2 separate regions of the Homo sapiens genome follow, and region 1 is linked to region 2. The links come from fine-mapping of genetic effects on gene expression. A gene starts in region 2. The other region holds a variant in brackets. All regions are shown on one strand. Distances are between the middles of the regions.

The links. PIP is the estimated chance that this variant, and not a neighbour inherited with it, causes the effect. A credible set is the group of variants that fine-mapping cannot tell apart.
Region 1: its variant is the best candidate, but not a certain one, in a credible set for the expression of SBK1 in Th2 cells (Schmiedel 2018, PIP 0.62).

What each region holds. Positions count from the first base shown.
Region 1 is chr16:28,267,737-28,273,105 of GRCh38, forward strand. It overlaps a transcript of SBK1 not described here. Among named protein-coding and RNA genes, the nearest start is that of SBK1, 22 kb to the right of the region's middle. The variant AATTATT/A (reference allele first, on the strand shown) is at 2,670.
Region 2 is chr16:28,290,010-28,295,378 of GRCh38, forward strand. SBK1 (SH3 domain binding kinase 1) reads left to right here and starts at 2,516. Exons shown (of 4, transcript NM_001024401.3): 1 at 2,516-3,291. It overlaps LOC124903670 (a long non-coding RNA gene), which reads right to left and starts at 2,056. Exons shown (of 2, transcript XR_007065033.1): 1 at 1,758-2,056. RefSeq lists silencers at 2,008-2,179, 2,387-2,616.

The DNA.
Region 1 (5,369 bases), 22 kb before region 2:
TCTATACTGCCAAATCCCTGAAAGGTGCTGGCATTAATAGCCTAAGTACCTCTGGAAATGAGAGTAAAGCTGGGGCTGAACCCCAGGAGGACTAGGGTAAGAAGGGCTTAAATCCTCAAATGTCCTTGCGGCCAGGCGCAGTGGCTCGTGCCTGTAATCCCAGCGCTTTGGGAGGCTGAACTGGGAGGATTGCTTGAGGCCAGGAGTTCAAGACCAGCCTGAGCCACATAGCAAGACCTTGTCTCTAAAAAAAGGTAAAAATTAACCAGGCGTGGTGGTGTGCACCTGTAGTCCCAGCTACTTGGGGGGCTGAGGTGGGAGGATTGCTTGAGCCTAGGAGTTTGAGACCAGCCTGGGCAACATGGTGAGACCCCATCTTTATAAAACAGTTTTGTTCATTCCTGGAGGTCCCTCTCCCTGTCAAATAGCATCCAGTTTTTGTTTCATAGTTATAGTATATTTTCTTAAATATCTAAATATAGTAGTAACAGTTCTGGGGGTTTTTTGGTTTTTGTTTTTGTGTAGAGATAGAGTCTCACCCTGTCAACTAGGCTGGAGTGCAGTGGTGGGATCAGGGCTCACTGCAGCCTCCACTTCTGGGGTTCAAGCAATCCTCCTACCTCAGCCTCCTGAGTAGCTGAGATCATAGGTGTGCACCACCACACCTGGCTAATTTTTAAAAATGGGTTTTTTTTTTTTTTGTAAAGATGGGTCTCACTATGTTGCCCAGAAATCAAAACTATTGGCCAGGCTCGGTGGCTCATACCTGTAATCCCAGCACTTTGGGAGGCTGAGGCGGGTGGATCACCTGAGGTCAGGAGTTCGAGACCAGCCTGGCCAAAATGGCAAAACCCTGTTTCTACTAAAAATACAAAAATTAATCAGGCATGGTGGCACGTGCCTGTAGTCCCAGCTACTCAGAAGGCTGAGACACGAGAATTGCTTGAACCTGGGAGGCGGAGGTTGCAGTGAGCCGAGATCGCACCACTGCACTCCAGTCTGGGTGACAGAGCGAGACTCTGTCTCGAAAAAAAAAGAAAGAAGGAAAAAAGAGCTAGGCAGCCACTTTGGTGTTGATCCAGCAGTCTTGGCCAACCTATAGAGAAGCTCAAGAGCAAACATTGTCCAGGAGAGGAGCTCCAGTGTCCCCACTGTCCCCACTGTCCTCAGTCATTGGCTGGAGCTGCCCAACAAGACCTTAGTTTTGGCTCAACTGCTGTGGCAGATCTCAAAGACAGTGTAGTTGAAGGCTGTCAGCCAACTGCAATCCTCAAAGCCAAATAGCAAGTTCTTTCCTTTTTTTTTTTTTTTTTTTGAGATGGAGTCTTGCTCTGTCACCCAGGCTGGAGTGCAAGGGTGCAATCTTGGCTCACTGCAACCTCTGCCTCCTGGGTTCAAGCGATTCTCCTGCCTCAGCCTCCTGAGTAGCTGGGATTAAAAGCGCCCGCCACCATGCCTGGCTCACTTTTGTATTTTTTAGTAGAGGTGGGGTTTCACCATGTTAGTCAGGCTGGTCTCGAATTCCCGACCACAGGTGATTCACCAGCCTCGGCCTCCCAAAGTGCTGGGATTACAGGTGTGAGCCACCATGCCTGGCCTGCAAGTTCTTTCTTGAAAGGAGAACCAAGCAGCCACCTCCATGACTACTACAGATGGGAAATAGGAAAGAAAGGGTATGAAGATTAGAGGATCAGTGCAGGCATCCCACATCTGAACAAAGGAGCTCCAGAAAGACAGTAGAGAGGAGAGGAAATAGTCAAAAAAATGTTTCCACTATTTCTTAGAACTGAAGGGCCTGAGTTTCCTGATTAAAAGAGCCCACGGAGTGACCATCCAAAGGATAAAAATAGGCTGGGTGTGGTGGCTCATGCCTGTAATCCCAGCACTTTGGGAGGCCGAGGCAGCAGGATCAGTTGAGGTCAGGAGTTTGAGACCAGCCTGGCCTGTATGGTAAAATCCCATCTCTACTAAAAATACAAAAAAAAAAAAATTAGCTGAGAGTGGTGGCACGCACCTGTAGTCCCAGCTACTCTCAAGGCTGAGGCACGAGAATCGCTTGAACTCGGGAGGTGGGGGTTGCAGTGAGCCAAGATTGCACCACTGCACTCCAGCCTGGGTGACAGAGCAAGACTCCGTCTCAAACAAACAAACAAACAAAAACAAAGGATAAAAATAGACTCATGCCAAAGCCAATCGCCAGTAAATTTCAAGACACTGGGACAAGAAGAAAATTCTCCAAAATTGTATAGAGTATCAAGAATCATAATGGCATCGGACTTCTCAACAGCAATCCTGGAAACGAGAAGACAATGAACTATGTTTTTTCCATTTTTGTTTTTGTTTTTTTGAGACACAGTCTTGTGCTCTGTCGCCAGGCTGGAGTGCAGTGGCGTGATCTCCACTCAACCTCCGCCTCCCAGGTTCAAGCGATTCTCCTGCCTCAGCCTCAAGAGTAGCTGGGACTACAGGCGCACACCCCCACAGCCAGATAATTTTTGTATTTTTAGTAGAGATGAGGTTTCACCATGTTGGCCAGGATGGTCTCGATCTCTTGATCTCGTGATCCACCCACCTCGGCCTCCCAAAGTGCTGGAATTACAGGCGTGAGCCACCACGATCTGCCGGAACTATGTTTCCAAAAGTAGAAAAGAAAATTATTTTCAGCCTAG[AATTATT/A]ATTATTATTATTATTATTATTATTATTACTAAAGACAGGGTTTTGCTCTGTCACCCAGGCTACAGTGCAGTGGCACAATCATGTCTCACTGCAGTCTCAACCTCCTGAGCCCAAATGATCCTCCTATCTGAGCCTCCTGGGTACCTGGGACCACAGGCAGTGCCACCACACCCGGCCAATTTTTTAATTTTTGTAGAAACAGGGTTTTACCATGTTGCCCAGGCTGGTCTTGAACTCCTGGCTCAAGTGATCCTCCCATTTCAGCCTCCCAAAGTGCTGGGATTACAGGCATGAGCCACTGTGCCCAGCCCTCAGCATAGAATTCAATACTTAGCCAAACTACTAATAAAGTGAGAGTAGAAAAAACAATATTTTCAGATTGGCAAGAGCTCAAAAATTTTACCTCCTATGCACCCTTTCTTATTTATTTATTTATTTATTTATTTATTTATTTATTTATTTATTTTTTGAGACGGAGTCTTGCTCTGTTGCCCAGGCTGGAGTGCAACAGCGTGCTCTCCGCTCACTGCAAGCTCCGCCTCCCGGGTACATGCCATTCTCCTGCCTCAGCCTCCCGAGTAGCTGGGACTACAGGCGCCCGCCACCACGCCTGGCTAATTTTTTGTACTTTTAGTAGAGACGGGGTTTCACCATGTTAGCCAGGATGGTCTCGATCTCCTGACCTTGTGATCCACCCGTCTCAGCCTCCCAAAGTGCTGGGATTACAGGCGTGAGCCACTGCACCCGGCCTACGCACCCTTACTTGAGAAAGCTACTGGAGGATGTACTCCACTAAAATAAGGGAGTAAACCAAGTAAAACAAGAAATAGTAAACAAGAAAAACAATAAAGAGTAAGACCTGGGCCAGGAGTAGTGGCTCACACCTGTAATCTTAGCACTTTAGGAGGCCAAAGCAGGCAGATCACCTGAGGTCGGGAGTTGAAGACCAGCCTGGCCAACATGGTGAAACCCCATTTCTACTAAAAATACAAAAATTAGCTGGGCATGGTGGCACACGCCTGTAATCTCAGCTACTTGGGAGGCTGAGACAGGAGAATCACTTGAACCTGGGAGGCGGAGGTTGCAGTGAGCCAAGATCACACCACTGCACTCCAGGCTGGGTGACAGAATGCGACTCCGTCCCCCCACCCCCAAAAAAGAGAGTAACATCTGGACTCCAGGAAACAGGAATTGAATGTAAGAGAGAGGAGAAGAGAATCTCGCAGTTCACACTCAAATAAGAGAAGAGATCTCTTCAAGGAGATGAAATTGATAGAATACCTAATGTTTTTGAATTTTGGAGACATTTACACAAGTAGGGGAGAATATGGGTTGACTGATATATAAACATGTAGGTAAACAAGTACTCCCCTCTCCAAAAAATGTTATCAAATCCAGGAAAACCGAAACTTTTGAACAGAAAAGGGAAAGAAATTTAAAATGAAAATTTCTGCCCTGCAAAAGACTCTGCCAAGAGAATGTGAAGAGAAGCCACAGAATGGCAGAAAATATCAAGTGCTCCTTGGTATTTACCCAAATAAGTTGAAAATTTATGCCCACAGAAAATCCTGCACATGAATATTTGCTAGTTTCGTTTTACTGTGGTAAGGACACTTAATGAAATTTGTCCTCCTAACATATTTTTAAATGTACAATACATGTATAATACATGGTTGTTTTTTTGAGACATGGTCTTACTCTGTTACTGAGGCTGGAGTACAATCACAGCTCACTGCAGCCTCCATCTCCTGGGCTCAAGCAATCCTCCATCCTCAGCCTCCAGAGTAGCTGGGACTACAGATGCATGCCACCATGTCCAGTTAATTTTTAAATTTTTTATAGGGACAGAGTTTCGCTATGTTGTCCAGGCTGGTTTCGAACTCCTGGGCTCAAGTGGTCCTCTAGCCTCAGCCTCCCAAAGTGCTGGGATTCCAGGTGTGAGCCCCTGGTACAGAGTTACACAGCAGCTCTTTAGAGCTTATTCATCTTGCTTTATTGAATCTTTATGCCTACTGATGAGCTATTCCCCAATTTCTTCTGCAACTCTGACAACTATAGAACCAAAATCTAGGAATTAGACTTCTTTAGATATCCCATATAAGTGGAATTATGAGATATGTGTCCTTCTGTGGCTTATTTTGCTTTGCATAATGTCCTTGAGTTTCATCTATGTTGTCACATATTTTTTTTCTTTCTTTCTTTCTTTCTTTTTTTTTTTTTTTTTTTTGAGACGGAGTCTCACTCTGTCACCCAGGCTGGAGTGCAGTGGCATGATCTTGGCTCACTGCAACCTCTGCCTCCCAGGTTCAAGCGATTCTTCTGCCTCAGCCCCCTGAGTAGCTGGGACTACAGGCATGCCCCACCACGCCTGGCTAATTTTTGTATTTTTAGTAGAGATAGGGTTTCACCATATTGGCCAGGCTGGTCTCGAACTCCTGACCTTGTGATCCACCCACTTCGGCCTCCCAAAGTGCTGGGATTACAGGCGTGAGCCACCATGCCTGGCCTGTCATCGCATATTTTTAAGGCTTAATTGTAGTAGTCCCTGTTGCATGTATAGATCACATTTTTTTCATCCATTCAACCCATTTGGGTTATTTCTACATTTGGCTATTGTGAATATTGTTGTAAAGAACACAGGAGTGCTAATACCATTTTGAGAATTATTTTTTTCTTTTTTTAGAGACAGGGTC
Region 2 (5,369 bases):
CAGGAGGTTGAGGCTGTAGTGAGCCATGATTGCACCACTACACTCCAACCTTGGTGACAAAGTGAGACCCTGTCTCAAAAAAAAAAAAAAAAGACAGAGGCAGATGTCCTAGAATAGCGTGGCTGAGGTCAAGGCCGAATGGAGAAGAGAGGTCCTTTGTAGGGGAATGGAGAGCAGGCTCTAAATGTTAAGGGCTTTGAATGCCAGGATAAGTAAGGTTAGACTTTACCCTGATGGTACACAGGAAGTCCTTGGCAGTTTTATGTAAGACAGCAACCCAACCCCATTTGTATTTTACAGACCTGATGATCCCAAAGGATTTGGATTCTAGAAAAAAGACAATCACCAGGCACGGTGGCTCATGCCTGTAATCCTAGCACTTTGGGAGGCTGAGGTGGGTGGATCACTTGAAGTCAGGAGTTTGAGACCAGCCTGGCCAACATGATGAAACCCCGTCTGTAGTAAAAATACAAAAATTAGCCAGGCATAGTGGCACACGCCTGTAATCCCAGCTACTCAGGAGGCTGAGCCAGGAGAATCACTTGAACCCCGCAGGCAGAGGTTGCGGTGAGGCAAGATCGTGCCATTGCACTCCAGGCTGGGCAGCAGAGCAAGACTCTGTCAAAAAAAGAAGGAAGGTAGGAAGGCAGGAAGGAAGGAAAGAAGAAAGGAAGGAAGGAAGGGCGGGGAGAGAAAAAGAAAGAAAGGAGAAGAGAAGAGAAGAAAAGAAAAGAGAAAAAAGACAATCTAGACAGAGGCAGGAGGCCGACAAGTTAAGAACTGAAACAATATTCTCAATGGTAGAGGTTGCCAACCTATGGTCTGGGGGCCAGATTTGTCTGCAAAGTGTGTTTCATTTGGCCCATTCAATATTTCCGAATTTTGGGAATTCGTTTCAAACATTTAAAAGTTGGAAGATTTCTGGATGTCCTGCTTCTCTTTGAATATCATCCAGCCACGCACAGCCCACGATGTCTCCAGTTCCCCTCTTCTCCACCCTCTCTATCACTTTACATGCGACCCCAGTCGCTCATGTCTGCGCCTGTAGGTACTTGCGTTTGCAATCCCTGGCTCCTAAAGCTCTGGAAACAGTCGGGAGTGGCTGGGAGGATTACGCTGGGTTGAGAAAACAGCCTGATCAAAAACTTAGAAGAAATAGGGGCAGTCATAAAAAATGATGAGTTCATGTCCTTTGTAGGGACATGGATGAAGCTGGAAACCATCATTCTCAGCAAACTATCGCAAGGACAAAAAACCAAACACCGCATGTTCTCACTCATAGGTGGGAATTGAACAAAGAGAACACATGGACACAGGAAGGGGAACATCACACACCAGGGACTGTTGTGGGGTGGGGGGAAGGGGGAGGGATAGCATTAGGAGATATACCTAATGCTAAATGACGAGTTAATGGGTGCAGCACACCAACATGGCACACGTATACATACGTAACAAACCTGCATGTTGTGCATATGTACCCTAAAACTTAAAGTATAATAATAATTAAAAAAAAGAATGAAAAAGAAATGCTTTTGAAGCTTGAAGCTAAAAAAACAAAAAAAAAAGAAAGAAATAGGGAAGGCGTCCTATTGGGGCTTTCTCACTAGGGAAAGAGTGAGCTGCAGGGAGGAGAAAGAACAGGGCCTGGAAGGACGAGCTGTCCCTATCTCATCTCTGTCCCCATCCACCCACTTCATCCAGGCCACCAATTTCCGGTTATCAAACAGACAATGCAACATCCCTTACACCTGCTGTACCTCTGCCTAGAATCTCCTTTCTTCCCTTCTATCCGGCGAGCAGTTCCTCCCAGCTGCACTCCTGGACTAGTCACTGCCTATTTGCAGCAGGGATCGCAAAGGCGACCTCAGTTGGATAGGGCAACCACCCAGGCCCAAGTTTATGACCTCTTCCCCAAGAAGACTGTGAGTTCTCTGACGTCTCGCTGGAAATAGGATGCATGGATGGATGGATGGATGGATGGACGGACGGATGGATGGATGGATGGAAGCGCAGGCAGGCAGGCGGACGCATGGATGAATGAAATGCATATCCGAATGCAGAACCTGGATTTGTTTTCCCTCCTTCAAACACACACAGGCTCCGCCCCACTAGCACAGACCGGGACAGTCTGGGGCAGTCTCGTCCCGCAGGGCCCAGAAAGCTGGACCAGGTGACCCTCTCAGACTCCCCCGAGTCCTCTGTAACCTCGTTCTCGCCCCCTCGTGGGCTCTGACCTAGAAAAGGAGTGGGGTGGGTGGGGGGTGGGGGGTGGGAGCCAGCTCGGGAGCCACCGGCGCTAGGACCCAGCGCGGCCGGAAGGGGGTGGGGGCGCCGCGCGGGGAGAATCTGCGCTCCGCGGCGCGCGGCGGGAGGGCGGGCGCGCGGCGGGTGAGCGCGCTTGCGCGAGGGCGCGCGCCGAGCGGGACGGACAAAGGGGCGGGCGGCGGCGCGCGAGCCGGAGGGCGGAGCCGCGGGCCGGGCGGGCAGGTGCGCGCTGGCTGGAGGGCGGAGCCGCGATGCCGCGATGGAGCGCAGCCCGGGCGGGCGCCGGGGCCGGGGCCCGAGCGCCAGGCGGAGCGCGAGCTGGAGCCGCAGCCGGAGCCCGGGCCAGGCCGGGGGCCGGGAGCGCAGGGCCGGGCTGCTCGTAGCGGCGGCGACCGAGCCCCCCAGCGGCTGAGGGGCTTCCAGCGCCCGCCGGTGGCCGGGACCCACTAAAGCCCCCGCAGCCGAGGAGTGCGGGGAGCCCCCTTCCACATCCAGGATCCGGCGAGCCTCGGGGAAGAGGGGGGGCCCTCCCGGATCCGACACCGAGCGACTCCCCTGCGGGGAAAGCGGAGACTTCCTCGGTATTTAGAAGACAGCAAGCCCCCTACGGCACCGCAAGGACTCCCCCTCCTCAGTCTGGGCCCCCGCCCCAAGACCTAGAACGCAGTGCCCCCAGGCCGGGATTGCGAGAACCCCCTCCCAAGATCCGGTCATTACAACTCCACACCTCAAGACAAGAAGACCCAGCTCAGAACGCCCCTAGATCAGGGGATCCCAATTCCCCCCAACTCCGGTACATAGAAATCCCAAATCTAGGCAGCCGGGGACAGCAAGAGACACTCTCACCAGCAAGAAGCCTCGGGGATCCCCCCCCTAAAGCTCCAGGACTTGGGCGACTGAGCCCCTGGCGGCACCGCTTGCACCCCGGTCCATGGTCGTGGCGCCCTGAGCCCCCGGGGCCGGGCAGACGAAGACCGCGACGGCGCCCAGGCCCCCTGCCGCGGCGTCCCCGCGGCCCCAGCCCAGGTAAGCCGGGCCCAGGTGAGGGGCGGCAGGTGAGTGGCCACCGAGGTCCCCATAGCCCTGCAGGTGGGGAAGGAAGTATCGGGTTGCGCGCTCCCCCTTCCCCAGCGTCGCCATGGAGCCGAGGCTGAAGGACGTCTCTTTGTGTCTCGCTTGGAGGAGCCGCCCCCTCCTCCTCTCCCTTCCCCCACCCCACTCCCTAGCCTTGAGGCTCGGGCGCAGCTCCCCGGCCCCACGGAGGAGTGGTGGTGGAGCCCGTTGTGCCATGGAGAGGGGGGAAGAGGGCGGAGAGTCCCCCCCCAAAAGCTGCGAGCCTGGAGGTTGGCCCCCAGGTCCTTGGAGTGTGAATACCCCTCCCCCACGGCCAAGCTGAGCTTCTAGTGAAGTCCCCCCGAGAGGGGAAAATTTGGGGGTGCCCACAGGTGAGGGGGGCTGCCTTATGTGGCCCTGGGTGATGGCTGGGGCTTCGGGTGTGTGTCTTTGTCTGTGAGAGTGCGGGGAAGGGGTGTGTTTGAGCGGATGAATGGGAATCGCATCTTCCCTGTGACTCTGCTGCCCGACCCAGGCCACACTGGCGGTCTTTACCTAAACCATACTTTGTACTCCCTGTGGGACAGGGAGGGAGTAAGTACCCCCCAAAGTGAGGCGCTAGTTTCTGGGGAGGAGAGGTAGCCTAGATGAAGAAGCTATTTCAGGTCAGGGCACCGTTCTGTTCCCATTTGTCCCAGGGACAGCAACCCAAGTCTTTCCCTTCCCCTCCTAACCTGGAGAACACCCAGGTTAAACCAAGGGTTGGCTCAATGTGTCCCAGACAACCAAGGGCCAATTCCAGGGTCTCACTGTGGCTTTCCAGGTGGTACACACGGCCGTACCCCAGCCTGGCCCTCAGTGAGGTCCTGAACCCCAGGCTCTACCGCATATGAGGAAGCCGAGAGACCCTAGGGGACATTGTACCCTGAAATCCTGAATCAGATCCTGAGAAGGGGCTGGACTGCATGGAAAGAACACACTCTGGGCTGCTGGGAGTTCCTCTCATCTCTTCTCTCTGAGCCTTCTGCAGACAAGCAGTGATGCTGGACCCATTTGATAGGTGCACAAACTGAGGCTCGGGAAGGCAGGACCCAGGATACAGCTAGCCCTGCCAGTAGCTCCTTCACTTATTCATTCAACAAACCTGTCGCCAATGTCTGTGATGGACCATGCGCTAGAGTCAGGGTCCTTTTCCCCACTTCATTCCTATCTCCTTTCTTGATGTCTCCTGATCATCAGACCCCTGGGCACGTCCCATTGGGCCTGTTGAAGTGGACCGGGCCAGGTCCAGCTGAGAGATTCTTGACCCTACACCTGAAGCAGCTGATCCCTGTCCTGCTACAGCCTTGGGAGCCCTGAGCCTGGGTGGCTGACTCCTCATCTCCCACCTTCCCAGCACCAAGTGCCCCCACCCCCACCTGCTGCTGGCACTGACCCAAGGGTGAGGATGTGACCAGCTGGAGACGAGGGTAGGGGGCACTTGATGCGGGCAGACCTCTGGCAGCCTCTCCTGCCAATTTCAGGACAGTTGAGGCAGCCACCTTCAGCACAGGCTGTGGGGGAATCAGGTGCCCTGAAGACTGAGTGACCTTGGGCAAGCACGTGGCCCTTCCCAGAGAAAATGACAGAGAGTGAGCCTCTCTGCAGCTTGAAGGGCGGATGGAGATCGAAATTGGGCAGGACAAGCATCCAGGTTTGCTCTACCCATTGCTGAAGGAGTTCATTTCCCCCCAGTGGGGGTTCCCAGAAGCCCAGGGCTTTGTCACACACCCCACAGGCAAGGCAGTGGAACCAGAGGCTGAAGAGCAGAAATTTGAGTCACTGTGTCCAGGGCAAACTGTGAGGAGGCCAGAGGAGGACAAGGAGCAAGACCTCCCCTCCTCACTAACCTGCAGTGGCTCTCCATTGAGTCCAGAATCAAGTCGCTGAGTCCAGATAGTCTCTGGACTGCAGCCTGGCCCTAAACCACCTCTCCTAGCCCATCTCCTCCGTGTCCTCTAATTCTCTGCCTCCGTCACGTGCTCTTCCCCTGACCTGAAAAGCCCCACTCT